Regions from separate parts of the Homo sapiens genome. Here regions 1, 2, 3 and 5 are each linked to region 4. The links come from fine-mapping of genetic effects on gene expression. A gene starts in region 4. Each other region holds a variant in brackets. All regions are shown on one strand. Distances are between the middles of the regions.

Region 1 (6,586 bases), 140 kb before region 4:
CTGGTACCATTCCTTCTGAAACTATTCCAATCAATAGAAAAAGAGGGAATCCTCCCTAACTCATTTTATGAGGCCAGCATCATTCTGATACCAAAACCTGGCAGAGACACAACAAAAAAAGAGAATTTTAGACCAATATCCTTGATGAACATTGATGCAAAAATCCTCAATAAAATACTGGCAAAACGAATCCAGCAGCACATCAAAAAGCTTATTCACCATGATCAAGTGGGCTTCATCCCTGGGATGCAAGGCTGGTTTAATAGACGCAAATCAATAAATGTAATCCAGCATATAAACAGAGCCAAGGACAAAAACCACGATTATCTCAATAGATGCAGAAAAAGCCTTTGACAAAATTCAACAACCCTTCATGCTAAAAACTCTCAATAAATTAGGTATTGATGGGACGTATTTCAAAATAATAAGAGCTATCTATGACAAACCCACAGCCAATATCATACTGAATGGGCAAAAACTGGAAGCATTCCCTTTGAAAACGGGCACAAGACAGGGATGCCCTCTCTCACCACTCCTATTCAACACAGTGTTGGAAGTTCTGGCCAGGGCAATTAGGCAGGAGAAGGAAATAAAAGGTATTCAATTAGGAAAAGAGGAAGTCAAATTGTCCCTGTTTGCAGATGACATGATTGTATATCTAGAAAACCCCATTGTCTCAGCCCAAAATCTCCTTCAGCTGATAAGCAACTTCAGCAAAGTCTCAGGATACAAAATCAATGTACAAAAATCACAAGCATTCTTATATACCAACAACAGACAAACAGAGAGCCAAATCATGAGTGAATTCCCATTCACAATTGCTTCAAAGAGAATAAAATACCTAGGAATCCAACTTACAAGGGATGTGAAGGACCTCTTCAAGGAGAACTACAAACCACTGCTCAAGGAAATAAAAGAGGATACAAACAAATGGAAGAACATTCCATGCTCATGGGTAGGAAGAATCAATATCGTCAAAATGGCCATACTGCCCAAGGTAATTTACAGATTCAATGCCATCCCCATCAAGCTACCAATGCCTTTCTTCACAGAATTGGAAAAAACTACTTTAAAGTTCATATGGAACCAAAAAAGAGCCCACATTGCCAAGTCAATCCTAAGCCAAAAGAACAAAGCTGGAGGCATCACACTACCTGACTTCAAACTATACTACAAGGCTACAGTAACCAAAACAGCATGGTACTGGTACCAAAACAGAGATATAGATCAATGGAACAGAACAACAGAGCCCTCAGAAATAACGCCACATATCTACAACTATCTGATCTTTGACAAACCTGAGAAAAACAAGCAATGGGGAAAGGATTCCCTATTTAATAAATGGTGCTGGGAAAACTGGCTAGCCATATGTAGAAAGCTGAAACTGGATCCCTTCCTTACACCTTATACAAAAATCAATTCAAGATGGATTAAAGACTTAAAGGTTAGACCTAAAACCATAAAAACCCTAGAAGAAAACCTAGGCATTACCATTCAGGACATAGGCATGGGCAAGGACTTCATGTCTAAAACACCAAAAGCAATGGCAACAAAAGACAAAATTGACAAATGGGATCTAATTAAACTAAAGAGCTTCTGCACAGCAAAAGGAAACTACCATCAGAGTGAACAGGCAACCTACAAAATGGGAGAAAATTTTCGCAACCTACTCATCTGACAAAGGGCTAATATCCAGAATCTACAATGAACTCCAACAAATTTACAAGAAAAAAACAACCCCATCAAAAAGTGGGCAAAGGACATGAACAGACACTTCTCAAAAGAAGACATTTATGCAGCCAAAAAACACATGAAAAAATGCTCATCATCACTGGCCATCAGAGAAATGCAAATCAAAACCACAATGAGATACCATCTCACACCAGTTAGAATGGCAATCATTAAAAAGTCAGGAAACAACAGGTGCTGGAGAGGATGTGGAGAAATAGGAACACTTTTACACTGTTGGTGGGACTGTAAACTAGTTCAACCATTGTGGAAGTCAGTGTGGCGATTCCTCAGGGATCTAGAACTGGAAATACCATTTGACCCAGCCATCCCATTACTGGGTATATACCCAAAGGACTATAAATCATGCTGCTATAAAGACACATGCACACGTATGTTTATTGCAGCATTATTCACAATAGCAAAGACTTGGAACCAACCCAAATGTCCATCAATGATAGACTGGATTAAGAAAATGTGGCACATATACACCATGGAATACTATGCAGCCATAAAAAATGATGAGTTCATGTCCTTTGTAGGGACATGGATGAAATTGGAAATCATCATTCTCAGTAAACTATCGCAAGAACAAAAAACCAAACACCGCATATTCTCACTCATAGGTGGGAATTGAACAATGAGATCACATGGACACAGGAAGGGGAATATCACACTCTGGGGACTGTTGTGGGGTGGGGGGAGGGGGGAGGGATAGCACCTGGAGATATACCTAATGCTAGATGACGAGTTAGTGGGTGCAGTGCACCAGCATGGCACATGTATACATATGTAACTAACCTGCACAATGTGCACATGTACCCTAAAACTTAAAGTATAATAAAAAAAAAATGACAACATGCTCTTTTAGGCTGCAGAAACTAATATTGGAGCATCTGTAACCTTTGGCAGAGTCTTGTTTGAAACTGGTCTGTACTCCACTACACTGTAAGCACCTTTAGGCAGGGACCTTGGCATTCATGCCTGTATCTCTAGCCCTGGCATGGAAGGTTCTTAACACACACATGCGAAGGAGTGGGTGGATGAGGAACTTAGGAGCACAGATCTCCTTGGCAACTGGAGGACTGTCTACAGGAGCCAGTGCAGAGCAGGTGCTCCAAGTTTGTGGTGAGGACGGGTATGGTAAGACGACAAGAAACTTCAAGGTGAGCTGTGCTCTGGCTCAAGGGCAGACACGGCACTGTGGGAGAGCTACCTGTAACTGGATCATGCGGGAAGGCTTCCTGAGAGATGGTCTCTTTGCCGTGCCTTGAGAGACAGGATTTTCCCTCATGAAGGGGACTAGGAGAAAAATGCATTCCCTAGTGAGGGAAGGGCCTGAGCAGACGCCTGGAGGGAGGAAGGACTAAAGAGTGGAGAGGAAACAGACATGTTTGGGAAGTTGGTGAGTTGGGGTGGAAACACGGAGCTTGAGGTGCTCAAGGGCCTTCCACTTGGGGGAGCTATTTAATCAGACATTACGCCTGAGCTGCTCCAAGGGCAAGGCCTGGGAGGAGGCTGTGTGTCAGCTTGGGTGGAGGCAGAAGGCAGGGTGTGCACGTGTTGGGGACGCCTCTGCTCCAAGCTGGGAGTCGCACAGATACCCCTTGCAGATGACGGGAGATAGAGTCAGGCAGTGCTGTGGG[T/A]AAGGAGCCTCGTTGCTTTACCCGCTCATACCCTAAACACCTGCCTTGCCCAGCCACAGTCCCAAGAATGGAAAAAGCACGTTCTGTGAAGCAGCCCCGGAGGGACCTCCTGGTGACCATTTCACAAAACACAGTCTCTACAGAACATTCAAAACAGTTTTTCGGAACTTTTTTTCCAGCAGGTTTTATGAACTAACAGCTCTTCCCCTCGAGTGTGAGAGCCTCCAGGCTGTCACCAGGAATATCACGAGCCATCGAGTCTGTGTGCTGATATGTCACTGCCCTCCCACAAAGTGGTCTGCAGTCCACGTATAAAAGTACAAAAGGTATGAAGCCTGCGGTGAAGAGCGCAGCATGGTTGAAGACACACATGGACCCTGGGGCCACCCCTGGACACCTGTCCCACAGCTCTGCTTCATGCCTGTCAGCAGCCTGTCTGAGACACCCTGCCAGCCCGGACTGGGCTTGCAGAGGGGGCTGTGTGCCCGCTCCCCACAGAAGCAAAGGCTCCGGGGCCCCCACACATGCCTCCCTACGCTCTCAGCCACGAAGAAAGTCATCTCCAGTCATCAGAGTTGGGGGCAGGCAGGCGAGAGTCATTCAGCAGCTGGTCCTGGCTCAGCATTGTCTGAAAAGGACACAGCCGAAGGGTCAGTTTAATAGAGTTTTGGTCCAGGCTGCCCTGCGGCAGCTGCACCGGAACTAGAGGGCACTGGGTGAGGGCTGCATCTGACACAGGTGCACTATAAGTTTATAGTGTCCCAAGAAACCCTGAGTATTGGGTCAGAATAAACAACACTATTAAGATAAAAATAAATTGTTCATCTTAGAAATAAATTTTCTATTTTCAGGCCACCAAAGGCCTAGATCATAAGGGCAAGTGTGGGCAGATTCCTTTCATGGGTGGGCCAATAAATAAAAACGTTGAGTAAAACTGATCCTGTTTGGAGTCAGGGAGACTTTCCTGTTTTGTCCTTGAAAACAAGGAGAGTCGTGTGTCCCTGTCCTTGTCCTGTCATCCCAATGGGCCTTGCTAGACAAGCAAGCAAAGTACAGGGACAGGGGCCTCGATGGGGACAGACACTATAGCCAATAGGCTCAGTGATGGAATGTCCAAGAACTAAAAGGCCTTGGGAGTGATGGATCCTCAAAAACAAATCCTGTGCTCTGTGGCTGGCCTTTTCCTGCCAGCTCTAGTCTGCCTATAAGCCTGGCAAGGAGGATGTCATTAGCCCTGCTTTACAGATAACTAAGCCAAAGCTCAGGAGAGAATGACATCCAAGGTCACAGAGCTAGTGAAGTCAGAGCAGGGACTTCAGCCTCACTCCAAAGCTGCTTTTCGAGGCCAAACTGCTTCCCCATGATATGGTTTGTCCTTTCGGGCGTGCCAGGATGTGCTCACAAGCCTGTCAACACTCTGTGATACCCACAAAGTCAGAGGCACGATAGGAAATGCATATGTCTCTGGGCAGAGGGTGGAAGTGTCCACTAGGACAGGATGCAGCCTGGGCTCTAGGCTGATGAGACAGGTGATCTAGAGTTGCTGAGCATCTTGGTTTCCTCATCTCTAAGCCTGGGAAGAGGACCTGAGATCTAGTGTGCTTTAGCTGGCTTTGGCTAACAGCCGATGAGCCTCCCCACTGCCCTTAGGGGCTCAAGGTCCAGTAACAGGCCAACAGAGAAGGCCCCTGGGCTGCTTTCTGCCTCGTGGCTGGCTCAGGCTCAGGCTGTGACCCCAGCACTAAGCACCATTCTTCGCCGTCCCCCAGGCCTTGTGCATACCACACCACACCACACCAAACTCACTGGGCCTCCCTGGCACCAGTCTGACTGTGGGGAGAGGGTCAGAGTCCTACCGTAAGGCGGTGAATGTCTTGGGAGAGGAGCCCTATCTGCGTCACGGTACCTTCCGAAGGTGCCATCTGTAAAATGGGCAGCAGCCTGGTCAGCACACATGGATGCAGCTTGTGATTCAGAGAGATGGCATGCAAGTCCTGTCGTGCTCAAGCCTGGCTTCTCCAGGGCATGCTTCTCTGGAGGGACAGGCAAGGAGTGGGCCAGGCCCTGAGGAGTGACAGGTGGGTGGAGCACATGCTGCTCCTGTTTCCTGGGGAAAGGCATCAATGTCCCACACTGCATGCATACCTCTCCTGGGGCCCCACTGGGAACTGGCATTCAGGGTACACAGAGGCAAGACACAAGCTTGTCAGAAGCAGCCCTTCTGCACGTGTTCAATGTTCCAGCTATTTCCAGGAGCAGAGAGCAGTAGGAATGAAGGCCTTCAGGATGCTAGACTCCTGCTACCAGGCAACAGGAGCTCAGACACCAATGCCCTGACATAGGTGGGCATCCTTCCTCACTACTCAAGAGCCTCCCTCCTGCCCCTCCTTCTCAGGTAATGCTGGTCTCTTCCTCCTTCCCTAAACCTACTTAGACACTGTAGATTTGGAAACATCCTCTGTAAATTTGGAGGGCACCAAGTGTAACCCCTCCCTTGTTTTATAGGTAGGAAAACAAGCCCACAAAGGGAACAGGACTTACTTGAGGGTGCAGAGAATCAGTGGCACAACAGTTCCATGCAGGTTTTGAAAACAGGCACATGCAGAGATCCCTGTACCGCAACATAAGAAACAAGGGACAAAGCCTGCCCTGACTGGCTCTACAACTCCAGTGGCCAGGCATCAGCCTGAATGAGCACTTGTCATCCAGTGGACCTGGGTACCAGGATCTATCAGCAGCATTGCCAGCTGGCAAGCTTGTCCCCACATCTCTCACCTCCCAGGAGGCAGTGGCCTGTGGCAACAGACCATGCCTGAGGCTGCTGGTAGTTTAAGAAGCAAATCTTAGCATAGCCTCCATCTGGTACAGAATCAGAGTGCTACAATGGAATGGAGTCATCAGGCCGTGCCCAGGCCATCAGACAGCGGTGACGTGGTGTTACTCTTCTGCGATGAGGCCCAGGGGATTGAGGGGAGCCAAGCACTGCCTGGGGGCAAACTAGAGTCTTCTGACCAGGAGTCCAGACTGGCAAGGCACATCTCTACCTCAGTCCCAGCCAGACAAGGCCCATCTGGAGGAGCCATTATCAGTCATTATCAGTCAGTCAGCCTCTAAATCAAGGGGACAGATCTCTTTCAGTTCTGCCAGCAGACAGACCAGCCCCCACCATGGTTATGAGCCTAGCTAAGTCAGTAATAGAGAAGCCAGCAAAA
Region 2 (6,586 bases), 70 kb before region 4:
TCATGCACAGAGAGCTGGTTGCTGGCATACTCAAAGAAATCAAGATTTCTGCACCTTGGAGAACATTGCATTTTAGGGATGAGATTTTTCAGGGGATATGTCAGGTCCAAAAAAGAAACTTCACCATGAATTGTGGCGAACCCTAGATCAGCCAAATTGTTCCCCTTGTTTTCTTGCTAAGGAAAAGAAACAGAGAAGACTTGTATCAGTCTTGGCAGAGAATCAGCACCCTGCTTTAATGGAATCTATTGTTTGTGTAGACTAGGCTGAGATCATCGCCTTTACTGTAATTATGTGGTATAAATGAGGGCTGCCATCTTCTTAGAAAGATCCTCATCTCCCTGCCACTTGATCCAGGCTTGACTTGTTGAAATCCTTCCTCTGAATTTTTAAACTTGGGAACAGAGCATGGTAGTGGTGGTGCCACAGTTCTGAGGTTGTCAGTGGCCATGTCCTGCTCCACGTGGAAAAAGCTGGTTTGCAGCAAGAGACAGCTATGAACCCAGTGTGCACAGAAAAGCAAACAAAAGCCAAGAAAAAGACTGGAGGCATTCTCATCCCCGGTGCACGCTGCCTAAAGGCAGAGATATATTCCAGCCCTTCCTGTTGGTTCCCTCTTGGCCTAGTTCAAACTGAGTTTCTGTTATTTGCAACCAAAAGTTCTGGTTAATACATTTGTCTCAAAAGGTGATCAACTGACTAAAATTTACTCCTTTGGAAACAGACTTGTAGGAAAGAATTCCTGCTATTTGGATATAGTTCTGAATTGCAAAGGAATTCTGCCACTATTGCTTGATTTGCTTAAAGTGGCAATTTTTAAGACAGGGCTGTCAGTCCTAAGCCAACTATAGTTCAAACCAGGATTATCATCAGGGGCTAATTGAGATCTACTTTGTGGCACAGGGAGTGTCTGTGTGGGATGTACTAGGATAAAAAGGGCACTCAGTGTCCTTTGTGTGTGGAATAGATGGCTTTCTATCCACCACCTGTTTGCTTCCATTCTTATTTCCCATGTAGAGCAAAAAGGTTAAGACAGGGAATGAATACAAGATGCAACAGGCCCATGGGCATCAACCGGGGTTGGTGGAGGTGGGGAGCAGGATGTGTGATATGAAAAAGTAAGTTCAAACAAAACAAGAAATAAACAGGAGCTAAAGTCTAAAAGATATTATCAGAAAATGAATCAGAAAATGAATAAATGAAGGGTAAATAACAGAAATAGATCTAACAACTGTTTAAGAAGTTATGTCGAAAGAATTACATGTCAGACACAGCTGTACAAATGCCAGGTCTGGGCGCTGGGAGGCTGAGAGCTCTGGGTTCCCTGTTCCCCTCATTTGGCCCAGCTGAACTTCAAGTCAGGGGATCCCTGGGGACTTTCTTGTGGTGCTTCCATATTCATTTACAGAATTCCTATTGCATCCTCCTCCCCAAGGGACCACCTTCTCTGCAGAAAGAGGACAAACCAAGAATAATTAGGAGGCTGGGGCTGCACCTAACCATGTGTAATCTCAAGTAGGTTACCTCATCTCAGGCTTTCCATCCTTTCAATAGAAAAAATCATGCTTCACGGAGCAACAGAAAGGGTCAAGTTAGGTCAGCATACCTGAAAACGTGTGGCACTAAAACTACAGAGTGCTCTTTATAGTAGGGTGCTCTAAAAATTCCTGTGTGATATAAACAGTTTTTGAATAATCATAGGAATATGGAAATGATTTTTAAATTATAATTTAACAAATGAATTTAGCTAACTTATAAATGATTTAGCTTTGTTTAATCTAAAAGACCAACATTCAGTTAGAAGCATGAGTTAGAAGGCATCATTTAATGCCTTCTACAAAAAGTTTTAATTAATTCACTCTTTTTGTGTAAGAGAACAACAGGGGCAATATTTCTGATCAGGATGCCTAAGAAATATCTATGAAGATCTGTACAAACAACCCAAGGGAACAATAACCAAAATACTTTCAGGCTTGAAATGAAAAAACAAAACAAAAAGAAAGCCTCTGTGACAGTGACAACGCAGAACCCACCATTAGCTAATAGCCCTGGGATCATGTCTTTGGGCCACATTGCCAAAGATGAGTTCACTTCTCCACTATCCCTGAACAAGTGCTCACATTTTTGAGTCATACATTCATGGCCACATATTTTTCTTTCGTACAAGTGTTTTATTGTGTACTCTAAGTATTATGTGCTACATACATGTTTATAATGAGTACACTGGGAATTTTTATAGCTAGTAATAACCAATCATAAACACTTGGGTTTTTATTTCTGTTCCAATCTAGAGGTTAGTTCAAATTTGGGTTAAACATGAACTTTTCAGCCAAGTTAACCCCCAGCGGCCTCCTCAAAGACATCACCCTCTGACTGCAGTGGCTGTTCAGATCTATGACAATGCTCTCTCCTGGCCTAGCCCTTCCACTGTAGCTTGGCCAAGGGATAGCCATGTTAGTCTCTCCTTGGAGCTCTAGACAGGGTGAGTGCTTGATGCCATGGCTGGGGTCCTGCAGATTTGTGGTGGGCAGCATGACTGCTTTATGGCCTGGCTGGCCATTTGCAAGGAGAACACACTCTTCACATGTGCTCTGGTACACCTCAGGGATGCTGGATGAGGGCAGTTCTGTAGCACTCCCCAACTGGCATGACCCAGGAGACTTCCTGCTGGCACTGTACTTCATTGAACTAGGGGAAGGAGTTGGTTCCAGAGTAGTCAAATGGGGCAAGGGCTAGATCACAACAGGGGTGTCATTGGTATACAAGTAAGGAGTGTGGGAAAACCTAAAACAGTCGGCTCCCCAGTGTGACAGCTCTAGCATCATGTTGGTTTTTGAAGCCAACAGTTGCTTCTCAGAGCTCTTGCCTTGGGATCCTCAAAATGCATCTGCCTTCCTTTTTTTGATATCAATAGTTGTCATCTTGGCCAGGTAAAGAGTTACATTTCCTTCAGTGCTTCTAATAAGCTATAAATTCCAGTGCCTTCAGGATCTTGGCCACAGTACATACACTGTCCCAACTGGTCAGAGCATGTTAAATTATATGATGGCTCTTTGCCTGTAAATACGCTGAGATTTTGAACACAGCACGTTGGGTAAGCCTTGTCCTGGATAAGCCTTAAAATG[G/C]TTCTTCCTTATTTAGCCATTTAGATGACATGTATTTTTAGCTGAATAAGAAAACAAAAGAAAATGTGTAGTGTTTCCAGGCTGCCTAGTCAAGAGGATCTTATCAAAATCCAGAAAACTAGTTACAAGTGAACCATAGCTGCCAGGCACAGGGCATCAGGGGAGATATCAAAGTTACTAAGGCTATATCTTAAGCTCAGAAGCACCACTCACATGCAACCCCTTTTAGAAACTTAGAAGACATAAACCTTAAAAGTAAGGGGACCAAAATAAATAAATAAACAAAAATGATTGGATCACAAAAGCTACAGTCAATTCCTGTTACAGGACTCTGGTTACCCAACACCAAGGGAACCCAGTAGTATGAGTGTAGGCAGGTTCTTATAAAAAAGAAAACTTCCCCTAGATTTTTTTATTAAGGAGTTTTAGGGCTTTCTGGCATTTATTATAAACCTGAGTATTCCCAGGACCAGTTCTGCTTTTTCTAGGTGAAGAACGGTCAAGCCAATCTACCATCTTTGTCACAGTGTTAAAGAAATTTCTTCCAAATGCAATGTGAATAGAGTGCAGTCAGATCCTCGGCTACCAGGAGTCCAACAAGAGAAAGCCTATCCTGACCTTGACCCTTATTCCCTCCTCCCCTCAATTATATATAAGGGGAGGTTAAGTATTGCTGATGAGGCTATCATCCAATGATCTAAATGTCCTCTTTTAAGGAAGAACAAAGCAGAGTTCATAAACAGCAAATAAATAGCTTCTTGGTTGACCAATGTTCACATCATCACACGTCATGAATGTATTTATGAAATGACTTGAATAATCCTGAGCACCCACTAGGTGCCACTTTCTGTGCTAAACAATGATTTAGTCCCTGCCCTTAAAAAGCTCTGTAGTATTACAGGGAATAAGGACAGAAGGAAAAAAGAAATCAACCTTTGCAGCAGGATGTAATAAGTACTATCATAAAGAGTTGTATGCACATGAATGGCAGGGGCATAGAGGAGAGACAAAAACATTTCACCTTCAAAAGAGAGAAGAGGCTTTACAGTGGAGGCACCATTTGAATGATTGAGTCTGAAGGCTTTAAAGGAATACCCCTAGGAGAATGTGAGAACAGCAGCTTTGGAAATAGCCTTCCCAATACAGACATGCTACCCATGAAGCTATGACAATCACTACCCTTCAGATATTCTGGTCTTCCAGAACTAACATAGCAAACACAGGACACCCTGAAGATAAACTGGCCATCAGCTCTCCAACCAAGGGGCTGGGATGAAGCTCCTAACTGATCTTCCTGGGGAGCTAGATTTGTAGAGAAACACATTTACCAAGATTTTTTTTTTCCCCAAAATTATAACCTTGGCTGAGCTTGGTCACTGCTAAATTCTCTTTATCTGGTAGCTGGACACATAAAAAGCTTACAGCACTGGGCTGCAGAAATAGCATTTGTATGTGTGCTGGTATCCTGTAATGAGAGGATGTGAAAGCCAGGAGGAGAGTAAAAAGAGAAGACTCTTTGAAGACTGTCCTCACCTTGCCAACTCCAATAGATGCACTGAGTCATTATTACTGAAAACACCTTCAGAGACAGTGCAGCAGGACTGGGTGCTACAGTTAGGGTGGAGTGGGCGCTGTGACTGTCTTAGCTCCCCTGGAGGCTTTAGAGCCTGGTGTCTCTTCGGCATGAAAGATCCAAAGTTTGAGAACACAGAATTAGGCAAGAGCCAAAGTAAGGAGCTGCTCCTCGGGTCACAAGAATGCCATTAATCCTACAAGATTTCCAAATGGAAATGAATACAAAGGAAAATGTATGGGGAAGATTGCCTGGGAACTAGAGGCAGCAAAAATAACATTACAGAAGGAATTTAAAAGATGACTATAGGAACAAAGTTAGTGCTCACTGGCTTCAGGAGTGACCAGGAGGGAGTAGAGATGAACGAGCAGGCTAACAACTCACCAAGAATCTTAACAGTGAAAGGAAGGTAAGTTATAAGGCAGCATGAAGAGACAAGCACAGGGTCAAAGATAGTTTTGATTTGTTTTTTCCCTGAGAATTGAGGAGAAGCATTTTCCACCAAGGGCAAGGGACAGATAGGCAGGGAGGAGCTGAGAGAAGAAACAATCAGAGCAACAAGAGGAGCTGGAACAGGATTGGGTCAAGGACAGGATACTGGGATAGCCTTGGCTGAGAGAAGGGACTCCTGGCCCATGAAACAGGATGCTGAAATACAGTTACATTTTGCGGTGAAAGGGAGGGAGGGTGAAGAGACTCATCTCAGTTTGGCTGGTTTTTTTTTTTTTTTCCTATGACATTGGTAGTGACATCAGTTGAAAGGGGAGTATAAGGTTGAAGACTAATGGAAAAGTGTGAAAGAGCTGCTATGGAGGAAGGGACAGAGAAAAGCAGGGATGAGTCAAAGGATCCCTAAGTGCTGCTGCCAGTCCACAAAACCAACAATGGCTGTGCTGCTCTGTAGTGCCCACAAGTTGTTCAGCAAATGACCCTGGTGTGATGCCAGTTTGTTAAATCCCACTGGGTAAAAGAGGCCTCTCTTCAAGGAGCTGGCAGGAGTTACAGGTGCTGGATGTCAGAGATGGCAGAATTCTAGCTTCTAAATTATACCAGGAAACATAATGTACAGGCATCTCGGGTGTGTTGGCCAGAAATAGGAGGTATCATAGGAAATTGAGGAAGCTAGTGCCCTTGGGTGACCATATCCACTGTTGCCTTTCCCATAGGATTGAAAAACCTCTCTTTTCAGAATCAAGGTTGGGTACCTGGCTCCCGAGTAACCAGAGGTTGTCAGTTCTGATCGATGTCATCCTCCCCATAACTCTAACACTTATAAAGTGCTTCCTAAGCACTTAACATACATTGAATTGGCTGGGCACGGTGGCTCACGCCTGTAATCCCAGCACTTTGGGAGGCTGAGGCGGGCGCATCATCTGAGATCAGGAGTTCGAGACCAGACTGGCTAACATGGCAAAACCCCATCTCTACTAAAAATACAAAAAATTAGCTGGGCATGGCGGTGTATGCCTGTAATCCCAGCTACTCGGGAGGCTGAGGCAGGAGAATCGCTTGAAGCTAGGAGAAGGAGGTTGAAGTGAGCCAAGATTGTGCCACTGCACTCCAGCCTGGGTGACAGACCTAGACTCTGTCTCAAAAAAAAAAAAATCTATCTATCTATCTATCTATAGAATTGTTTATCCATATATATAATCAAGGAAATTGAATTCTAGGAAGGTTAAATAAATTGCCCAAGTCTACACAGAGGTGAGATATGAGCCCAAGGAATCTAGATCCAGGATCCATGCTCTTAACTAGTAGGAACAGCCTTCACAGAAGCTGCTGCCTATTTCTGTAACTTTCACTGCAGTCCAACATGAATGCAAGGCAAGTCAGTGTCTGGAGTGAGGAGACCTCCGTGTCTGCCTTTGCAGCTCTTCTGGCCCAAGTG
Region 3 (6,586 bases), 83 kb before region 4:
GTTCCCTTCCCATCCCACATCCTGCCGTGGGCTGCAAAACAGAAACATTATTTTGCCCTGAAAAGTGTTCATAATCTAGGTGGGCTCATGTGGACCTGCCCCTTTGCTGGCTCTGGTTGGTTCTGATTTGCCTGTCTAACCCCAAGAGAGGTCTTCTTGCTCTTTCTGGAGGCTGGATGAGTTCATGTGTAGACAAAAACAGATGGGAGTTGGGAGGTCAGCCCTGAGCAGCGACAGACTGAGGATGTTGTGGTTGGGGATACAGTGAGTATATTGTTCATGAACTAGGTAAGGAACTAACTCCTCACCTCTTGTGCTCCTGGAGGAAGGTTGACATTGGTCAGGAGAGCAGCATGGAGAGAGACAGCTCAATGGGGTTCTTGGAGCCCCTTTAAGCACAAGGTTTGGGCTATCCTCATTGATTTGGCTTTCCCCAAGTCCCCCTGGAGTTATTCCAGCCTGTAGAAGGGGCCAAGTCTAGAGCAGAGGTTGCAGATTGGAGGCCTGCAGGCCAGGCTTGACCTATAGGTATGTACTGTATGATTCACACAGCATTTTAAAAAACTTAAATTAGCTGCTAATATTTTAAAAGCAGAGATCCTTAACTCTTTAGATCTGGATTTTGAGTCTCTTGTGAAAAATGAGAATATCTAGCATTACCAGGCCTACATGGGCAGTCAACTGGAGTAGAACAGCAGCTGCTGCCTTCAGACAGGATGTCTCCAGCATGCAGGGTTATCAGGAGCAGCAAACCCCGAGGAAGCACCTTATCTACAGGCAGTTAGAAGGGCGCACACTGAGACAGTGAAAGGATTTCCTTCAGAGGCTTTGAGCAGCAGGCTCGCCTTGGCTCCAGGCAGGAATGGTTTCTGAGGCTGGCAGAAAGAGGCAATTGTTTGCCTCCATTCTCTGCCTCTAGGCCATGAGTCATTCTTGCTCCTACCACCAGAAGCCAAGGGCCCTGCAGCCCAGGATATCTCAGTCAAATCAGGCAAGTGTTTGCCTGTCCCTAGCTCAGAGAATACACACATACTCCAAGCCAGAGATATTGCATCAGCACTGTGGTGCAAGAATCAAGTGTCTTCACAAACAGCATCAAACAGACTTCAGGAAAGCAATAGCATGTGCGGCCGAACATTCAACTTTGGATTTAGATCTGGGAACTCAAAAGATCTCAAGCTCTGGTGCCACCCAGCCCAGCGAACACATGAGTGGAAGATGAGGCTCAGATGTGTCCTATGGCTTGAACTCAATTTGTTAAGAAAGGAGCACTGCACACTGCTATCATTTGACCCTTGACAGTTTGAGAGAATACAATGAAAGCTTATGGGCAGAAAAATAACTTGGTCAAGTTCAGGAATCTTTGAAACTCAGAAGTGGCTACCATACTCCAAAATATGCCAGGTTAAGACATCTACCCTCTATGGCACATGGTACCACACGCCCAATACCAAACCCACAGCACACAGGAAAGAGGGTTTAGAATAAACGGGCTAAAAAAGGTAATTGAGGCCGGGCGCAGTGGCTCACACCTGTAATCCCAGCACTTTGGGAGGCCAAGGCGGGTGGATCATGAGGTCAGGAGATTGAGACCATCCTGGCTAACATGGTGAAACCCCGTCTCTACTAAAACTACAAAAAAAAAAAAAAAAAAAATTAGCCGGGCGTGGTGGCAGGCACCTGTAGTCCCAGCTACTTGGGAGGCTAAGGCAGGAGAATGGCGTGAACCCAGGAGGCGGAGGTTGCAGTGAGCCGAGATCGCGCCACCGCACTCCAGCCTGGGCAACTGAGAAAGACTCCGTCTCAAAAAAAAAAAAAAAAAAAGTAATTGAGTTTATGACTTTAAAAAAGTCTAAAATGCCATCCATGGGATGATGTTTAGAGGAACTAGACAGCCTCTCCCCAGGTGGTGCTGGGCATCACAATCAGACTCCTTGACACAGAGACTTTGACAATGGAGCAGAAACACTGTCATAGAGAGCTATGTAGAGAAGGCTCAGAGAAGCCAGCACAGGCAGTCAGATAACTCAGGCACTACAATGCAGCATTCTGTTGACCTCTGATTATGTGGTTACTCTCCCAGCATAGCCTTCCTGAAACATCAACCTTCTGACACGTTCCCTTCCGTATTCAAATGTTCTTGCTCTCTTTCTGGATTGTTTACACCATTCCATCATCTTCTTCCCTTATCCTTCTCACCTCAAAAACACACCTTGTGCAGACTTGAAAACACAATCTAGTAGGTTGTTTTCTGCACTCTTTGTGAAAATACTTTCATCATTTGAGATTTTTTTCCATCAGGCTATTTTCTTTCCTGGGTCTTCAAAAGAAAGATTCAATTAAAAAAAAAAAGCCTCAATTCCTTTTGCTAGTCAGATTTTTAGGAAATATTATGAACAAGAGAAATGGCACACAACCTAAGTAGAAAATCAAATGGCGCCAAGAATGTGGTAATTTATTAATCAGCAATGAAAAGATAACAAACAAAAGTTCCTGAATCATTGAAACGGGTTTTTATGAAGACATATATATAAAAACACTGACTTACATTTGTATAAAGTTCTTCAAAGGCACTCAAACAAAACTAACAAACACCAGATTAATTCTCATGACATTTGTCATGAGACCAAAGGTAAAATGCAAAGCCTGTGTTCACCAGTATGCTGTCAAGAAACAATCTGAGTCTTATGCTGATCATGACAATTAAAAAAAAAATGCTAGCGCTTTTGGAGGAAAGATTATAAGTAGTCCTCTAATTGAATCCACTCATTTTAAGGAACAAACTTTTGTTCTTTAAGTAATTGTGAGTACCTTTTATGTGCCAAGTACTATGCCAGGAGTTATAAGGCATACACACATAAACTTCAGTCATTGTTTAATTTTCAAGATAACTTAAAATGTAAGAATGACTTAAGGAAAATTTAAGATTAGATATATTAATACATTTCATTTAAAAACCTAATTCGCTTCTCAACAAATTCTGAAGTTTTGATACAATAAAAATTCAACACCCCTTCCTAAAAAATTGTAGCTCATTATTTATAATACAGTAAAAATATTTAGGAATTGAAAAAAAGTTAAGTCAATTCTGATACTTTTACTAAGAAAATCTATTATAGGTGATAGTAAAGATGACAATACAGCAAAAATTTTAAATGGGAAAAATATAATATTAAGCATACAAAATCTGAGGACTAAATTGCATATCTCTTGTGATTACAGATTTGGAAAGTACATGTACACATAACAAGGACAAAAAGAAAACAAGGAGAAGACATTATTTGAATGGTAGGGAACAGTTAAATATCTTTTTCCATTTTGATATCTATTAAATTATACTAAAAGGTTATTTATATAATATTTTTATTTTAAAAACTATATACAGTAGGAAGAGGCAGAGCGAGATGGGAAAGGGGCATAGAATCAGCTGAGAATTGACTTTCTAAAACTCCAGATGGCACCCACAGGATGAGGGTGAGGCCCCCAGCCGAGCGCTCCCTCACTGCACCAGGTCTGGAGAAAGTGCTGTCTGGGAATCTGTCTAACCAGCTCAGCAGGTTATTCATCTCAGGGCAGCCCTTCCCTTCCCTACCCCCTCTGCCACTCTCAACGTTCAGGTTGGTTTCACCTGCTGTATAAACACCGTACAACTGAGCAGCCAATCCCGCCCCCAGGCAGGATGGGAAAGCAGACAGCGAGGGCTGTAGCCTGGGCACACAAAGGGGCTTCAGCACATGAGCTGCTTCGGCACCCAAGGGCCTTCAGTGCACCCGCCCTTACCTGTTGAAGCATCTCTTCAGCAGCATTGAGTTTCACCTGGTGTCCTTCCAGACACACTTCCAGGTCTCGAATCTTTTCTCCCTGGGCTTCTACTTGGTCTGTGAGGACACTCACCTGTTCCAGGAAATAAAGCAATGGTGGAGGACCAGGGATTTGACATGGTGCAGGAAAGCCTCCCCACCTCAGGGGAGCCGTTAAATCTCACCACTGACTCTTACACACAGTGAACGATTTTGATTTTTGCTGAGTGGCAGGTGGAGGAAGTGTCCTGAACGAAGGCAGCTGCAGTTAGATTCTTACCTTACCAGGGAGTCTCGGCCACTGCTCTGATGACATGGGTCACGTTTACTGCTCTTGATAGACTCAAGAGTAAAACACCCAACAGCCACAGGAGCTGCCTCTGGGCTGGACTCCTGCTCCTTATTCCTCTTCCAGAACAGCCCCGACCTCAAGGCACATCTCAGCTGGCTTGCCAGCACTTCTGCAACCTCGTGTGGAAGAGCGGTCCAAACTTCATGGAAACTAACCAATGACCTTACCTCTCTCATAAGGGTGTGAGGACTGCTCACCTATCAGGTGAGTGTTTTGATGCAATTAAGGAATGTGGGCTGTAAAGGGCATGTATTAGCACTGACAAAACTTGGCTCCAGAAAGGTTATTGTGCTTCACAGGCCAAAACATGACTCTAAGTCATAAATATAGAGAAGCCACATTACACATACGGTGGCAGAAAAAAAGTCATCTTTCTGAAGAACGCTGAGAATCCCTATTAAAAATATTAATTAGTAAAAACTCATTTACAGGAAGTCATTCAAATTATGCACTAACTATATATTAACAATGGTTTTCATAGCCTTCTCTATTAGCAAACGGCCCCAGGATCCTTTTTCTTTATTAAGAGATGGTTCAAAGCAAGAAGAGAGAGAATGAGTGTCCTCCCCAAAGTGAAGAAATTAGCAGTTGATAAACTGAGATCCTTTAGACCTTTTTGGTTAGAGTTGTTGC[C/A]ATTTACATATAGATTATCCAGAATTATTTCTCAGTCTGAAATGGAATAATAGATGGTGCATGAGTTGATGTGAATTCATTTATGAGTGTTTAGATAAACTTTCTGAATTATAAAGCGCCTGTTTAAAAAGGAACTAATCTAAATTAATATGCCTACTTTAAGATCTCCATTTTTATTTTCCCAAATGATTAATGAATTATTGAAACATATTCCTGGAGTTGACACATGGTTAACATTCCACTTTTAACCAAAAAAAATGTTAAAAAAAAAAAAAAAAACAAGAACGGGCTCTTTCTATCAACTTGGTCCACCTTACACGCAAACCTTTGTGGGTGGGTGTTTATTAATCCCTGTGGCCCAACACTCTCAGCCATCCTGAACTAACTCTACTTTCAAAAGGGCAGGACTCTGGGGGTGGGCTTTGCTCACTGGAATCCAGAGTTTCTGTTTGTGAAGGATGTTTTCTGGTTAATCTTATTATGAGGGTTAAACATTTCTATGGTCTATACCATGCCTTGAGGCCATGTGTTGGTGATACTCAAGGAATCATAGGATCTCTAGCATTCTATAGCTAATTGTTCAGCTCCAGGGGCTTTCTGAACCTCAACGCTGATTCTAAGTATTACAAATGAAGGGATGTAGGAAATCCAGACAAAATACATAAAGGTCATAAAATGTGACCTTTGTTCACTAAAAACAACTATTTTTGAGACCCTAATAGATGCTAGGCATAATTTTAGGTACTGGAGGATACAGAAGTTAAAAAAAAAAAAAAAGGATAAAAATCCTTTTCCTAAGGAGTTACATTATAATGAAGATACAAGAGATTCTGGTTTTGTTTTTAACTAATCCTAGAAACAAAGTATTTTGTTATGTGTGATTTGCCTTGTTCTATGAGTAGAACCAGGAAAACTTTCTGGGCCAAGGACTCTAAATTAATTCAGTCTGGCTAAGCTGCTGTGTGCATTAAGCAAGAGGCTCTACCCTGCTGAGAATCTGCCTAACCAGCTCCACTGCAGAACAGCAGTGATCACTTAACAGACACTCCTGGAGTCTGCCCATAAGCTCCCAGTAGAGTAGAAACTACTAGGGTCAACTTCTGACTTTACTGGCAAGCAGCTTCCCAATTGTGTTAGGATTATTTAAATGGGGATTATTCAAGAATTTGGAATTTTAGAAAACTATGAATGTGAAAGGGAGCATTATTACACAGGACTTTGAAAAATTAAATTGTAATCCTCTGTAAATAGGAATGTGCTATTTCAATCATGAAGGGTCCTGGTTCAAAAGTTTGCAATTTCATACTGTTTGCTGCAAAATCTTACATTGGATACTCTTTCATTAATCATGTCATTGGGATAAGAGTTTCAAATTACACATCCCTCAAACATCTGTGCTACAATGTGCTATTCAATCTGGCCCTTGCTACCTTTCTAAAGGCAGCTCGCACCACCCTTTTGAGCACAGACTGCAGGCACAATGGCCACTTGCTGTTCTTCCCACACCCCAAGCACACTCTTGCCTCAGTGTGTGGGCTGGACTGACTGCCTGCTCTGCCTGGAATGCACTTCTCCAGGTATCTGCATGGCTCCCTCCTTGGCTTCCTCCTGTAAAGGAGATCTTCCTTTTACTACACAATCCTCATCCTGCTTTACTTTTTTCCAGCGTTCTTACCAGCACCTGAAATAGTTAATGTATTGGCTTATTGTCAATTCACACTCTCCTTTTTCTTTTTTTTTTTTTTTTTTTTTGAGATGGAGTCTCGCTCTGTTGCCCAGGCTGGAGCACAGTGATGCGATG
Region 4 (6,586 bases):
ACAATGCCCATACCCAGGTAAGCCCACCAGGCCGTGCCCCCTCTGCGGAGGACCCCACTGGAAGTCGGACTATGAGCGGCCCCTGCAGGGACCGCCCCCCATCCCTTCCTGAGCAGGCCAAAACCTCCTACTCGGATCTCATTTGCCTTGCCGCTGAAGACTGATGGTGCCCTGGAATGGATGCCCCGGCAACTACCATCACTTCATCCGAGCCAAGGGTAACCCTGATGGTTTTAATCAACATGGGTGACCTACTCTGCTTTACCTAATTTTTCAGGACCCACCCAGTCCTCCTAAGTCTCTGTTGTGGGAATTGATGGACAAGTCTCCTAACCCCGAGCCACCCCTCCACTTTTCTGCTTCCTGCACACCTTTTCCTTCACTCACTTTTTCACCCCAAACCTGGTCTCATTCCCAACTCTGCTCCTAGGCAGGGACATCCTTTCAAAACTCCACACTACTCTCCACTTCCACATTCCCCGTAGTACCCAACGCATCAACCCAGACCCCTCCGAGGCTTCTAGCTTTCTTCTGCTCCTCCAACCTCCCACCCTAAAACATGCAACCTTTCCTTACCCCTATCTGTAGTTAACCCCGCTGTTAGGGATATTTCCACACCCTCAGTTGCAAAACACCACACCCCTGTCCACATTACCCTTAAAGACCCCACACTATTGAAGCCAATCTGCTCCTCCCAGGCACCACCTCCCAAAAAGCTGAACTCATCACCCTCACTCGAGCTCTCACTCTAGCAGCCGGACAACAGTTCTCTAATTTAGGAGGATTTAAAACCCTGGTAGGGACAGTAATCTTCATCACTTTTTCTCCCCTGTGTTATCCCACTAATAATAAAAGCCACTAAAACTCTTATTGAAACTACAGTTAGCCACCAGACAATTCAGACTATGCTCCTGCTACAACGACACGATGGATACCAACACATCTCTCAAGAATACCCTAAAAATTAAGTTTTTCTTTTTCCAAGGAGCCCACACCACCCCTAAGTCACGCCTGAAGTAGTTATTGAGAAAGTCACCCCTTTTCCCTTTTTACTATAACCAAATAGACAGGAATGAAAGATTCTCCCCGGGGTCTGAAAGCTTGAAGAGATGAGTAACTCCTCCCTTCTCAGGCCCAGTCCCAAGGTGCAAGGCCAGTTGCGCCAGCAGTGTGCATCAGCAAGACAGCAGAAGCAGGAAGACAGCCGGCCAGAAGACACCTACCCTGGCTGGAAGACACGTACCCCTTGAAGACAGAGAGAGGGGCCGTCTGGGTACTGTGCAGAAGTTACATCAGACTGAGACACTTCTTGTTTACAGGAAACTATAAAACCCCTGCCTCGTCCTCACTTGGTGCTGACGCCATTTTAGGCCTCAGCCCACCTGCACCCAGGCGCTCGTTAAAACAGCACGTTGCCCCACACCGCCTCATGTTGTCTGTTGGCAGGCTCTCGGGGTTCGAACCAATACAAGAACCTTTCATAAACTTTACCTTAAACATTACAGTCTAAAGGCCATACCATTCCTCAGGCCCAAAGCTGAATCTTCCCAGCATTGTTTCTCCCTCCTCACTTCTCATTGCATCTAATCAGTCTAGAGACTGTCCCATTCCCTAGTCCTCTGTCCTACAGATTCTATCTCTCCGAAGTCTCCCTACCTGTCCCCACCTCATCACTCTCTCAGGCCCAAAATAAGGCCTCATCCCTTTGACCCTGGATCAGCCTCCCGGTTTCCTATCCGGCCTCGCCGCCCCCACTGTCTTTTTCCCTTGGAGTTTGCTTCCCACCACACTCCCAGAACTTTGCCATTGCAGCAGTTGCCTTCGGGTTTGTCAACAGAATCACCTGGGGGAACTTGGTAAAAACATCCCAGACTACTTAATCTGAACGTTTTACAAAACTCCCCAGGCGATTATGAGGCATAGCCAGGTTTGCAAACTGCTACTCTAAATCCTTGCTACACATAGGGAAATGATCAGCAAGCTCCTGGGAATCTGTTAGAAACACAGAATGTCAAGTCCCACCCCTGACCTATGGAATCATAATTTGCATTTGAACAAGATCCCCACAGGATTCTCAACTTTGAGAAGCTCTGCTCTACAGTGTTGTCAGACCATGCACTCCACAAATATTTACTGGATTTTCTCTGTATCAGGCTAGGAATTGGGAGGGTCAAGGACCAAGGTCTTTGACTTTGAGAAGTTCACAGAACCATCAGTCAGTCCCCTGCTGTGCCTTCAGACCAAGTCCAGACTTCTGTACTGGACAGCTGGGACTATTTTCCAGCCTTGTCACCAGCTTTCCTGACTAGCACTTGACATAAGAGCCAAGCTGGACCACTGGCCACTTCTCATGGTGAGTCCATGCCTGCCTGCCCACACAGTTGTCACAGCCCAGGCCACACTCTACCCTTCTCTGCCTCAAAAACCCCAGGAGGGATCCTTTGAGGTCCATCACATCACCCTTTCTTAAAATTATCCCAGATTTCCCTGCTCAGATGAAAGACAGGAATTCCCATAACTTTGTTCCTACCGCCTTCATGTCATTGATCTCATTCCACTTACTCTTTTAAAGTCAAAGCGCATCTCCCTTAGCTACCCAGTAAAGAAGGCATCATGGTAAGCAGCTTATCTCTCCAGTAGCAATAAGCTAACAACTGTCACATCACCAAATCTTAAAATAGTATTACTAATAATTGAAATATGTTAAATAAAACATGGATAAATGCAATCAGTGAAAACCTCATCAATCATCCCCATCTCCCACTTCAAATTTATTTAGCTATGAATTTAAGCAAAGTACAAATGGGTTGCCTCTCTTAAGCCAAAGAGAAATAATTTCTAAATTAGATAACACTTACAGCTTTCCATACACCTATAATAATGAAAGACTGAATATGCTGAAGATGAATTATGTCGAAAACCAACTACTTTTCTGTAGTTGACCATTTAACTTCACATAATACACTACAAATTTGAAAACACTTCAGATTTGTATTACAATCAATTAAGGAGGGGTTGAGAAAGGAGAGAGACGAAGAGAAAGACAGGAAGTAGACCAAAATATAGAAAAGGGACACGGATCTATACCAAATATCTGGCTGCTCTAAAAGTAAAAATATAATTAGATTCGTTTTTTAAGAAGATTAAACACTGGCAAGAATGCCTGTCTTAATCCTATCCAAACGCTGGAAGTTCTGTTCTCTTGTTACATAATCTTATTTTCATCCGAGGAAAAACTGCGGGTCTGGAATCTGATGTGATGAGGTGAGGAGGGAGCCCACTTTTAAATAGGACCGTCCCCATCCTGCAGTCTACTGGGACGCGGCGGCTTTAGATTTTAAAAAGTGTGCTGTATTTTTGCACTTACACTACAGAACTGGCTTTAGCCGAGGCCCTGCATCTAGACACACGCTGTGTCCACCAGAGAATTGCCTGGGCTGACAGACCTAAAGCTTCCGCAACCTCCTTAGGCTCCCTAGTCCACGCCGCTGCTCCCCGGGCTGAGCAGGGCTGGGACGCGCCGCACAGAACTCAGGGACCCCACCTCCCTGCGCATCTCCAGGGCCACGCTGGCACCTGCAGGAGTGCGGACTGTCCGCGGATCCCAGGCAGGGTTGGGTGGAGATTCGCAGCCAACCCACAGGAGTTCTGCCCTCCTCCCAGGCTTCTGGCCAGTGGAGTTGGAGAAGGGTCCCCGTCCTCGAGCCTGGGACACGCTCCGGGGCTCACAGAGACACTGACCCACACGTCCCCGTGGTTCGTAGCTCTGGGGGCGCTCCACTCCCTAGGTAATGCTCCCGACGGGGATCCCAACCCCGACCGCGCGGCAAGCCCGGGGTGTGGGGAGAGCCCACTGACCTGGGTACGGGGCCGAGGCTCCTCTCCGGGCGGCTCAGGTGTGCGGGCCGCTCCCGTGTCCCTCCCACCTTCAAACATGAGAGCCCAGAAGCGAGCGACGGGCCACTGGCCCACCGACCAACTGCCGGACCAAGCGCCCGACCAACCAGCGGACCGACCGCAGCGGCCGGGGCCGGCGCCCACGTGACGGGGCGGGGACCTGCGGAAGGCTCTTCCCGGAGCGCCGCGCCCCCACCCCGGGACCTGCCACAGGGACCACCCCCTTGGGCACCCGCTCCCTCTCGGGCACCGAAGAAGCCTGCTGGGACCCGTCCACCAGGGTTCCTGTTCCCGGGGGACCGGCCTGGTCAGCCCCGCCCCTTCGAACCTGCCTCGTCCCCACCCCCTGGGCCGCGCGTCCGGGCCCCAGCCCCGCCTCTCTCGGCGGACCGCGCCCCCTTCCGGGAGCCCCGCCCCGTTCGCCGCGCCTCCTCCTCCGCACAGCTCCGGTTGCGGGGAGGCCCGGGTGGGTACCCGGCGCTCCGGCTCCCAGTCTCCTGGGCTTCTCCAGTCCTTCAGCGCCGTTCTCCGGTCACAGGGAATGAAAGCGAGGAAGAAGGAAACGGTGTCGAGAATTGCGAAGAGAGAAAGCATAGAAAACCCACATTAGAGGCACTCCCAGAGCAGAAACCCTTCGGAGCATCCCGACTTCCTCGGCCCGCGTGCAATCCAGGCAAAATTGAGGTTGTCTCTGAGCCGCCCTCCCTAAGCAGGTCGGAAAGCCCCCGAATCATCCCAGGTCCCGCCGCGCTGCACTCGCAACCTGGGGTGGAGGTCCCTCTAGTGGTTGGCACCAAACAAAAGTTCTGTCTTATGAAGAGCCGAGGTCAGGAAGCATTTCCCTGTGCCCAGCGCCAAGGTCTGGGACCTTAGGTCCAAGAAAAGCGTTGGCAATGTCTGACCACAGGAATGGGTTCTCGAACTGGGGAGGACTGAAGCTGGAGATCTGGTCCAGCCCCTACCTCCAGCGTGTGGCCTGAACCCGTTTTGGTTGTACTGCTATGTTGTGGCCCTGCCCAGGCCTCCAAGGACTGGCTGCTGTTAAGCTGTTTAAAATCCCTGTAGGCCTCAGATGGCAGCGACACCAGGGACTCGGCATAGTCCCCAGCTCTGGCAGGAGTCACCACAGCCCTAGCCTTTAGTTCTCTACAGGCTGGAGTGTCGACAAACTCCACAGGACACAACTTTTTCAAACCAAATTTACCCTCGCGGTCTGAAATGACCAGTAGGCCCAGGAGAATTTTACATGTGAACAGAACCTAACCCACCCTGGCAAATATGAGACGTGTGGTCACTGCGGGAACCTGGCCAGCAGCAGACCAAAGCACAGCCAGCAGGGGAAGGCTGGGGCCCGCAAGAGTTGTGTTACAACAGGACACCCTTCAGTTCTCTTTCACTTCCTTAAAATAGCAGCAGAGCGACTTTTGTAGACGCAGGCTGCCACAGTTCACACAAGGTCATGGCTGTTTCCGAATCCCACCCTTTATTGCCCTAGCGGAGCCACTCCCCTTACCTCCGCCCCCAGAAACTGCTAGCCTGTTCTTAAATTGATACAGTTACCTTTTTAAATGTTCTAAGTCACCGGCTCTGGAGCTTCTTTGCACTTTGGAACCAACTTGCGGGAAGGAACTTTAAAAATACTGATATCTCGATCCATCCCCAGAGGTTCTGATTTAATGGTCTTGGGGATATGGCCACGGCATGAGGACTGTTAAAACTCCGCAGGTGATTCTTATGTGCAACAAAGTTTAAGAACCACTGATGTAGGCCATGTCGATGTCAGTCTTCACTTAAATCCAACAAGACCCCAGAGCTAAAACGTTCACCTGAAAGAAACCCCATTCCCAGGCCTGCATACTGACCTGCGCTGGCTCACAAGAAGCAAAGTGGTCCCTTAACAGGGGCTTCCTGGAGAAAATGTCTTGACCTAAAAGAGTGATTCGAGCTGCAGGGATTTAAGGTAGGTACCAAGGTGAGTTGTTTGGGGCAGATGTGCCCTGCAGAGCTGTCAATCAAATCATATCCCAGGTGGAATCTAGACAGCACATTTCAGGCAACCTCCCCTCTGTGCCTCCAAAGGAACTATGGTTGCAGGACTCACTCCTATTGATAAATCTACCCCACTATCCTCTGTGAGGCAGCCCACATTCCTTCTATCTGTGAAATAGGTAGGTAATAGGGCAGGTAATATCACATTTATTTATTCATACCTGTCTCATTCCACAAAGGATTTGGCCTCTCTGTACCATTCTGTTAGAACTGTGGGTAATTACACTGTATCCATGGGTTGAGTAATTCCCTTCTGCCAAATATCTACTCAAATGCTATGGAAAAAAACATTTTCTCTTCACTGCCTATGGTCCCAGCCTGGGCTTGGCAAAGACAGGAAAACAGCTGCAAGCACACAAAGCAAACCTTCTCATGTGACCAACCTGGAAAGACAGAGGCTTCAGCACGTGACACAGACTGGCACCACAGCCTGCACTTGTGACTCGAACTTAGCTGAATTGGACAAACACGTGGGAAACACTGAGGAAGCCCCTGTCAAGAGGCATGCTGCCCTCGGTGCCACAGGGCATGCCTGCTGTGGCAGAGTCGCTTGCCTGCTGTATGGCTTCTGTCCAGATTCCAGAATATTTACCAGGGCCTCAGTGTGTTGGGAATCATTCACAGTAAACCTAACACAAGC
Region 5 (5,437 bases), 77 kb before region 4:
AAAACTGGAATGTAAAACTATATATTTGGTATGAGCTCAGTTATTTACAATAGAGGCAAAAGAAAAAAAACCAACAACACTGGAAAAAAGGCCGAAGTGTTAACCTGCTTCTTCACATTTTTAGAATTTTAAAGGTTTTTAAAATCATTCATTACCCTTATGTTCATAAAATACAATGAAAGAGTAAAATAAGTAAGGTAAAAAGAGAAAAAACAAACACACTGCCACCTCATAACCTTAGTGCTCCAAGCTAAAGCCCATAGCCTGGGGTGGGTTCCAGGCCCCGCTCAACCCCTCCCTTCATTCTACCACCAGTCTAACTCATCACCCTTTAAGCTTTTAAGGAGCTGGGATTAGGATACTAGCCTTTATATTTTCCAAATCACTAATTAATATCTGATGCATACCAGACCTTGAGTAAATGCTTGCTTAATCAATTTATATTTTCAAGAGCTAACACAGCAAAGTGCTGGGCCTGCTTCTTCAACAGCCTTCTTATGAGAATACCTAACTCTATGTCCTACCAAGGCACACAAACTTTCAACAGCGAAAAAGCTCCCTTGATGATCTTTCTCCGTAAAAGGTTTTGGAGCTCCTCTCTTTCAAGCAAGACAGCTATCAAAGGCTTAGCCCCTGTTACCAGCTCCAGGGGATTTGGCATTAAAGGGATCAGTCTAGATCCAGCTTCAGACAATTTGGACTTGATTCATTAGCATTCACCCTTAGGCCTGTATCACCCACAGCTCTGTTTTATTAGTGGCATGAGGATATATCTCCCCTCCCTCGCAAGACTCAGGAGCTTCTGGGGGACAGGGCCCATTTTGTTCATTCTTAGCACCTGGAAATCAGCCTGGTCATGGGGCTGCCAGTGTATAGAAGCGGGTGCTTGGGAGTGCATGATAAATGAATGACTGAATTCACAGCCCCCCTAAGCCAAGTCTAGAGTTAAATTGTCCCCTCAGTTACTTAATGTTTTATTTCAGGAAAAGTCTTTTCTAAAAACATAGGCATTGGAAGGAGAAAAATTCCAACAGAGAAAATCTCTTGGGCTTCCCTTCCACTTAGGGGAAGCTACATAGTAGGAGGTAACAGGATAAGCCGATTCTCACCAAAAAGTACCCACCTGCAATATGAGGGACTCCTTATCCCCTTCTAGACGTGCCAAGCGTTCCTGGTAGGTTTCATTACTAGCAGCACTGTGGTGGTTTACCTGGGACTAAAGAGGACAGAAAAAAAAGAATACACTTAAAAGGTTGGAAAAACATCTTACCAACTTCTAAATGAAATAAGGGATGCATGTAATTTGTGAGGATAGTTTCACTGATTATATGTACAAAACCAATCATCAAAACAGGAAACCACAAGATTTCAAAACTACCATGAGGAGAACCAGATCACATGCCACTGAAAAGTGCGCCCTGGAAGTTGGCACAACCACCTCCTGGATGACCTCACTCCTGGCCAGGAGGGCCTCTGTGAAACTCTAGGCCCAGCAGTGCTTGACTTGACATGCTGGGTCTGGGTTAGCCAGAGGCACAGCCTCCAGAGGCATGGCGACAATGAGGGTCTGCTCTTTGAGGAGATTGGAGAGCTGGCACCGTTCTCCAAGGGACTACATGGGAACAGCTTCTGCACAGATCTTGGTATCTCCTAATTCTCATGCCAGGGTCCCCTGAAGCCAAGGCACACCTTGCTGCATGGAGGCCCATCCTGAACATCACAGTGAGCATGAAGGATGGAGGATGTCAACTACAAGGCCCTTCATTCACACGTCCCTTCCCACCCCAATCCCACCCTCCAATAAGAGCTTTGGTAGCCAGGCTGGCAGATCACATTTCCCCAGTGCTAGAGCTGAGAGAAGCAAGCTAAGACAAAACATCTTGAGAAGAACTTAAATAATAGCCAGAGGGATGCCAGAGCAAAAGCTAAGGAAATTACAGGTAGCCAGAAACTATAGAAAAGAGAGGAAAGGGAGAGGATGTGAAATGTCAGAGGAGAGGCAGAATCTTACAAATGTCCCAAGCAGAGAAAGGAGGTGTCACTTTCTTGGGTGTGTCTGACCTGGTTGTGGGCAGACAGGAGAGAAGGAGCTAATGTCACCAAGCTGGCCCCAACAC[C/T]TCCTTCCTCCATGCAAATGGAAGACTGAAATCAGACTGGTCTGCAATAGGCCACCCAGAGGCTTGGCAGTTTGAAAAAGTAGATCTGATTGCTAAATGTGGAACTGAGTATTATACAATCTGAGCTGGTCCAGTGAAATCAGCACTTCAATATTCACGAGGGAGGTGTCTACCACCCTAGAGGAAAGTCTTAATTGTGCAAAGAGGCAGATGTGAGAGACCCAGAGTTGGGCCACCTTGTCCTAGGCCATTTCCCCACATTTCAACTTTTAGCATGGGCTCTCCCACCACCCTCCATGAGAAAAGGCACCTCCTTCCTCCCCTCATCCCACCCCTTCCCAATGCACTGCATAGGTGAGGGAGGCAACAGAGCCATGCCCAGTCCTAGAACAGAAATGTGGACCAAGCATACCGCATTCAAACCCTGGATGCGCACTAGTGAAAGATTCATTGATTGTTTGTTGAAGGTGCAGCCAGAGGACAGGCCCAGGGGCCACTCCCCAGGCCAGCTGTGCCAGGCAGCACCTGCTGCCACACCACTGTCTTCTGCTCCAGCCCCTCTGGAGCCTATGTCTTGTTCATTGTTATGGAAGCTCTTTCATGCCACAGACAAAGAACCTTAACAATCACAACTGACTTCTTTGTTAATGGCAGTTTATTGTTGTTAAATTAATATTCCGGTTCTCACATGATCAAATTCTCTGACTAGAATCCAAGAATATATTATAATCTATATTTTCTCAGAACCAGAGAAGAAAAGGTAGGAGAATAATTCTTAATAGCAGGTCAACTTCTTCTCTGTCAAAGAACTCACATGATGGTGATTTCCAGTGGACAGAGAATTAAACAGGACCCAGGTGTCCAAGTGAAGCTCTGCAGGTAGAACCCCAGTGCCGAAGTCCACATGGACACGGAGCCACCTAGCACTGGCAGCCGCCCATTCTCTGGCAGGAAATGAAGGAGAGAAGACCAAAGGCAAGACTTCTTCCAGAGACTCCAGCAAGCCACTGTACCAACTATGCCTTATTCAAATGGTGTGCAGTATATTCTTCATTATAATAAAAGGTCTACCCATACAATCACCCAGAGAGGTAACTATTTTTACTAGTTGACAAAAAAAAGAGTAAGAAAGTTGAAATCATAAATTCAGTTAATAAAATGTATGACCTAGATTCTATAGCACATGCTAGAAGGGGGATCAAAAATCTAGATCCACGCTAGCAGCCAGTAAAAAAAGAGAGGCACAATCAGTTAACAGGATCCGCAGATCAGTATGGTAAAATCAAATCAATTGCCTAGGAGAAGCATAATTATTCCGGAGCAAGGGAGAAACTTCACGTTTTCATAGACAGATTTTGTGTGATGGGATCAGCAATATCCATGACACCCTTATAGTAAACAGAGCCCAGTAGAACTCATTACTTTTGTGTGATGTTCTCAGAATAGTTCAGAGGCTAGTGGACAATATGGGCCAAAGGTGAAAGCAATTCCATGGAGACTAATATAATATGGTCCAGGCACAGTGCTGTAAATACACAGCAAGCACCTTGTGCTCAACATGTGCCAGGCACTGTTCAGAGCACTTTGACATAATGTTTGAGTTTCTTACAAAATGTTTCTATTGAGTAATTAAAATATATTTGAAAATCTAGAAGCACTGTTAGAGGACCTAGAACAGTGGTTCCTCATATTTGCCCCTCCTATAACAGATTCGAGGAGCCAACTCCTTTCCTAGCAGGCATACTGGTCCATACAGCAGTGGTGTGCATGGCAGACAGGTCCCTCCCCCACCCCAATCACTGTTCTAGAGGAACAGTGCATCTTCCTCTTCTACAGGTCCTTCAAAATCACCGTTCTCCAGCAAGCTTTTTAAAGGTAAACAGCAGTGAAAGATAATGTTCCAGATGGAAACCCACAGTATCACTATCCTTTGCTTTTGATGAAGTCAGAGCCATGTGTTTTCATGATCTATATAGGACTAGGATGTTAAAAAAAACTGCGTTCTTCAGAAGGGCATAGGCCAGGATCAAATGCCACCTCTGCCTGGAGAAAAACTTGGAAAGCATCTGAGAACAGGGCCAAGAAGAGGATTGTCTTGCTGAATGCTAATACTCATCAGCCTAAGGTAAGGATTTGCCTTTGGGTGAATCTGTATATTCTGTATTCTTATAACCTGGCAACAGGTTCAATCACGTTCTGGTATCATTCTTGCATTATAAAATGACTACATCATCAAGGCATAATAAGCTTTGTGGTTATCAAAATGGGATTCCAATTTATTGAGAAAAATATTTTAAAAGACTGAGTTAGGACACATCTCTGTTTTGCTCTACTTTAAAGACAGCTTGCTTGGTCAACAAGTATACCTGCTTCTTTAATAGTGGAATTGCAAATAGAAGGCTTGGATGGATAGTGGATCCCTGCATGATTCCAGGTTTGAGGTGTCTCTGAAAAGTCTTGTCCATGTTCCTGATTAGGTAAGTCAGCGATAGAGCAGTTGCCCAGCTCTCCACGCATGAAGTCAGGTTGCAAAAACCATGCCCACATTTCACAGAGAAGAAAGTCCAATCAAATTCTGAAGGATGCTACGTGCTAATTTTCTGAGGTTTTTTTTTTTTTGGGAGGGGGTTGTTCTTTTTGAGACAGAGTCTTGTTCTGTCACCAGGCTGGAGTGCAGTGGTGCGATCTAGGCTCACTGCAACCTCTGCCTCCTGGGTTCAAGCGATCCTCCTGCCTCAGCCTCTTGAGTAGCTGGGTCTACAGGCATGCACCACCATGCCCAGCTAATTTTTTGTATTTTTGGTAGAGATGGGGTTTCACCACGTTGGCCAGGATAGTCTCAATCTCTTGACCTTGTGATCTGCCCACCTTGGCCTCCCAAAGTGCTGAGATTACAGGCATGAGCCACCGTGCCTGGCCTACATGCTAATTTTCTATTGTTCCCCACTGTGGGATGGCAAGTGACTATAAAGGAGAGTATCATCCACCCCCGTTATACTTGTTAAGGATGCTCAATCCACAGATGAATATAAGAAAGAGCTAATTTTTACTCAACCAATGACATTAGCCACTAGGCTAGACCTGCCAATGGTAAGCTGTGTTACATATATTTGATCAAACTTCCTCCCCCTCTGTTCTGATGGTTATTGCTACAAATGTGACAGGGAAAAGTCAATCTTCTCATTCAAATTTTCAGACCATTCATTCAAATGGTCAGAGCTATTTCTGATACTGTAATTCAGGTTAGTTACCTAAAAATATAGTGAGAACCATGTGATCTGTGTGCCCTGTGGAGAACTGTTAACTCCAGACATTTCCAC

The links. PIP is the estimated chance that this variant, and not a neighbour inherited with it, causes the effect.
Region 1: its variant is fine-mapped to the expression of PPFIBP2 in whole blood (INTERVAL, PIP above 0.99).
Region 2: its variant is fine-mapped to the expression of PPFIBP2 in tibial artery (GTEx, PIP above 0.99).
Region 3: its variant is fine-mapped to the expression of PPFIBP2 in lung (TOPMed, PIP above 0.99).
Region 5: its variant is fine-mapped to the expression of PPFIBP2 in blood mononuclear cells (TOPMed, PIP 0.97).

What each region holds. Positions count from the first base shown.
Region 1 is chr11:7,654,143-7,660,728 of GRCh38, reverse strand. It overlaps a transcript of PPFIBP2 not described here. Among named protein-coding and RNA genes, the nearest start is that of CYB5R2, 16 kb to the left of the region's middle. The variant T/A (reference allele first, on the strand shown) is at 3,375.
Region 2 is chr11:7,581,559-7,588,144 of GRCh38, reverse strand. All of the region lies in intron 3 of PPFIBP2 (PPFIB scaffold protein 2), which reads right to left. The region is part of intron 2 of LOC105376535 (a long non-coding RNA gene); the gene reads left to right. Among named protein-coding and RNA genes, the nearest start is that of PPFIBP2, 71 kb to the right of the region's middle. The variant G/C (reference allele first, on the strand shown) is at 3,126.
Region 3 is chr11:7,594,868-7,601,453 of GRCh38, reverse strand. PPFIBP2 (PPFIB scaffold protein 2) reads right to left here. Exons shown (of 24, transcript NM_003621.5): 5 at 3,781-3,894. It overlaps LOC105376535 (a long non-coding RNA gene), which reads left to right and starts at 4,274. Exons shown (of 4, transcript XR_007062579.1): 1 at 4,274-4,356. The variant C/A (reference allele first, on the strand shown) is at 4,786.
Region 4 is chr11:7,511,394-7,517,979 of GRCh38, reverse strand. It overlaps PPFIBP2 (PPFIB scaffold protein 2), which reads right to left and starts at 3,981. Exons shown (of 24, transcript NM_003621.5): 1 at 3,859-3,981. LOC124902806 (leucine-rich repeat extensin-like protein 5) reads left to right here. Exons shown (of 4, transcript XM_047428005.1): 2 at 3,375-3,862; 3 at 3,940-5,857. The coding sequence ends at 4,770. RefSeq lists enhancers at 1,351-1,400, 5,086-5,205 and a silencer at 3,886-4,415.
Region 5 is chr11:7,588,911-7,594,347 of GRCh38, reverse strand. It overlaps PPFIBP2 (PPFIB scaffold protein 2), which reads right to left. Exons shown (of 24, transcript NM_003621.5): 4 at 1,124-1,216. LOC105376535 (a long non-coding RNA gene) reads left to right here. Exons shown (of 4, transcript XR_007062579.1): 2 at 3,954-4,242. Among named protein-coding and RNA genes, the nearest start is that of PPFIBP2, 78 kb to the right of the region's middle. The variant C/T (reference allele first, on the strand shown) is at 2,118.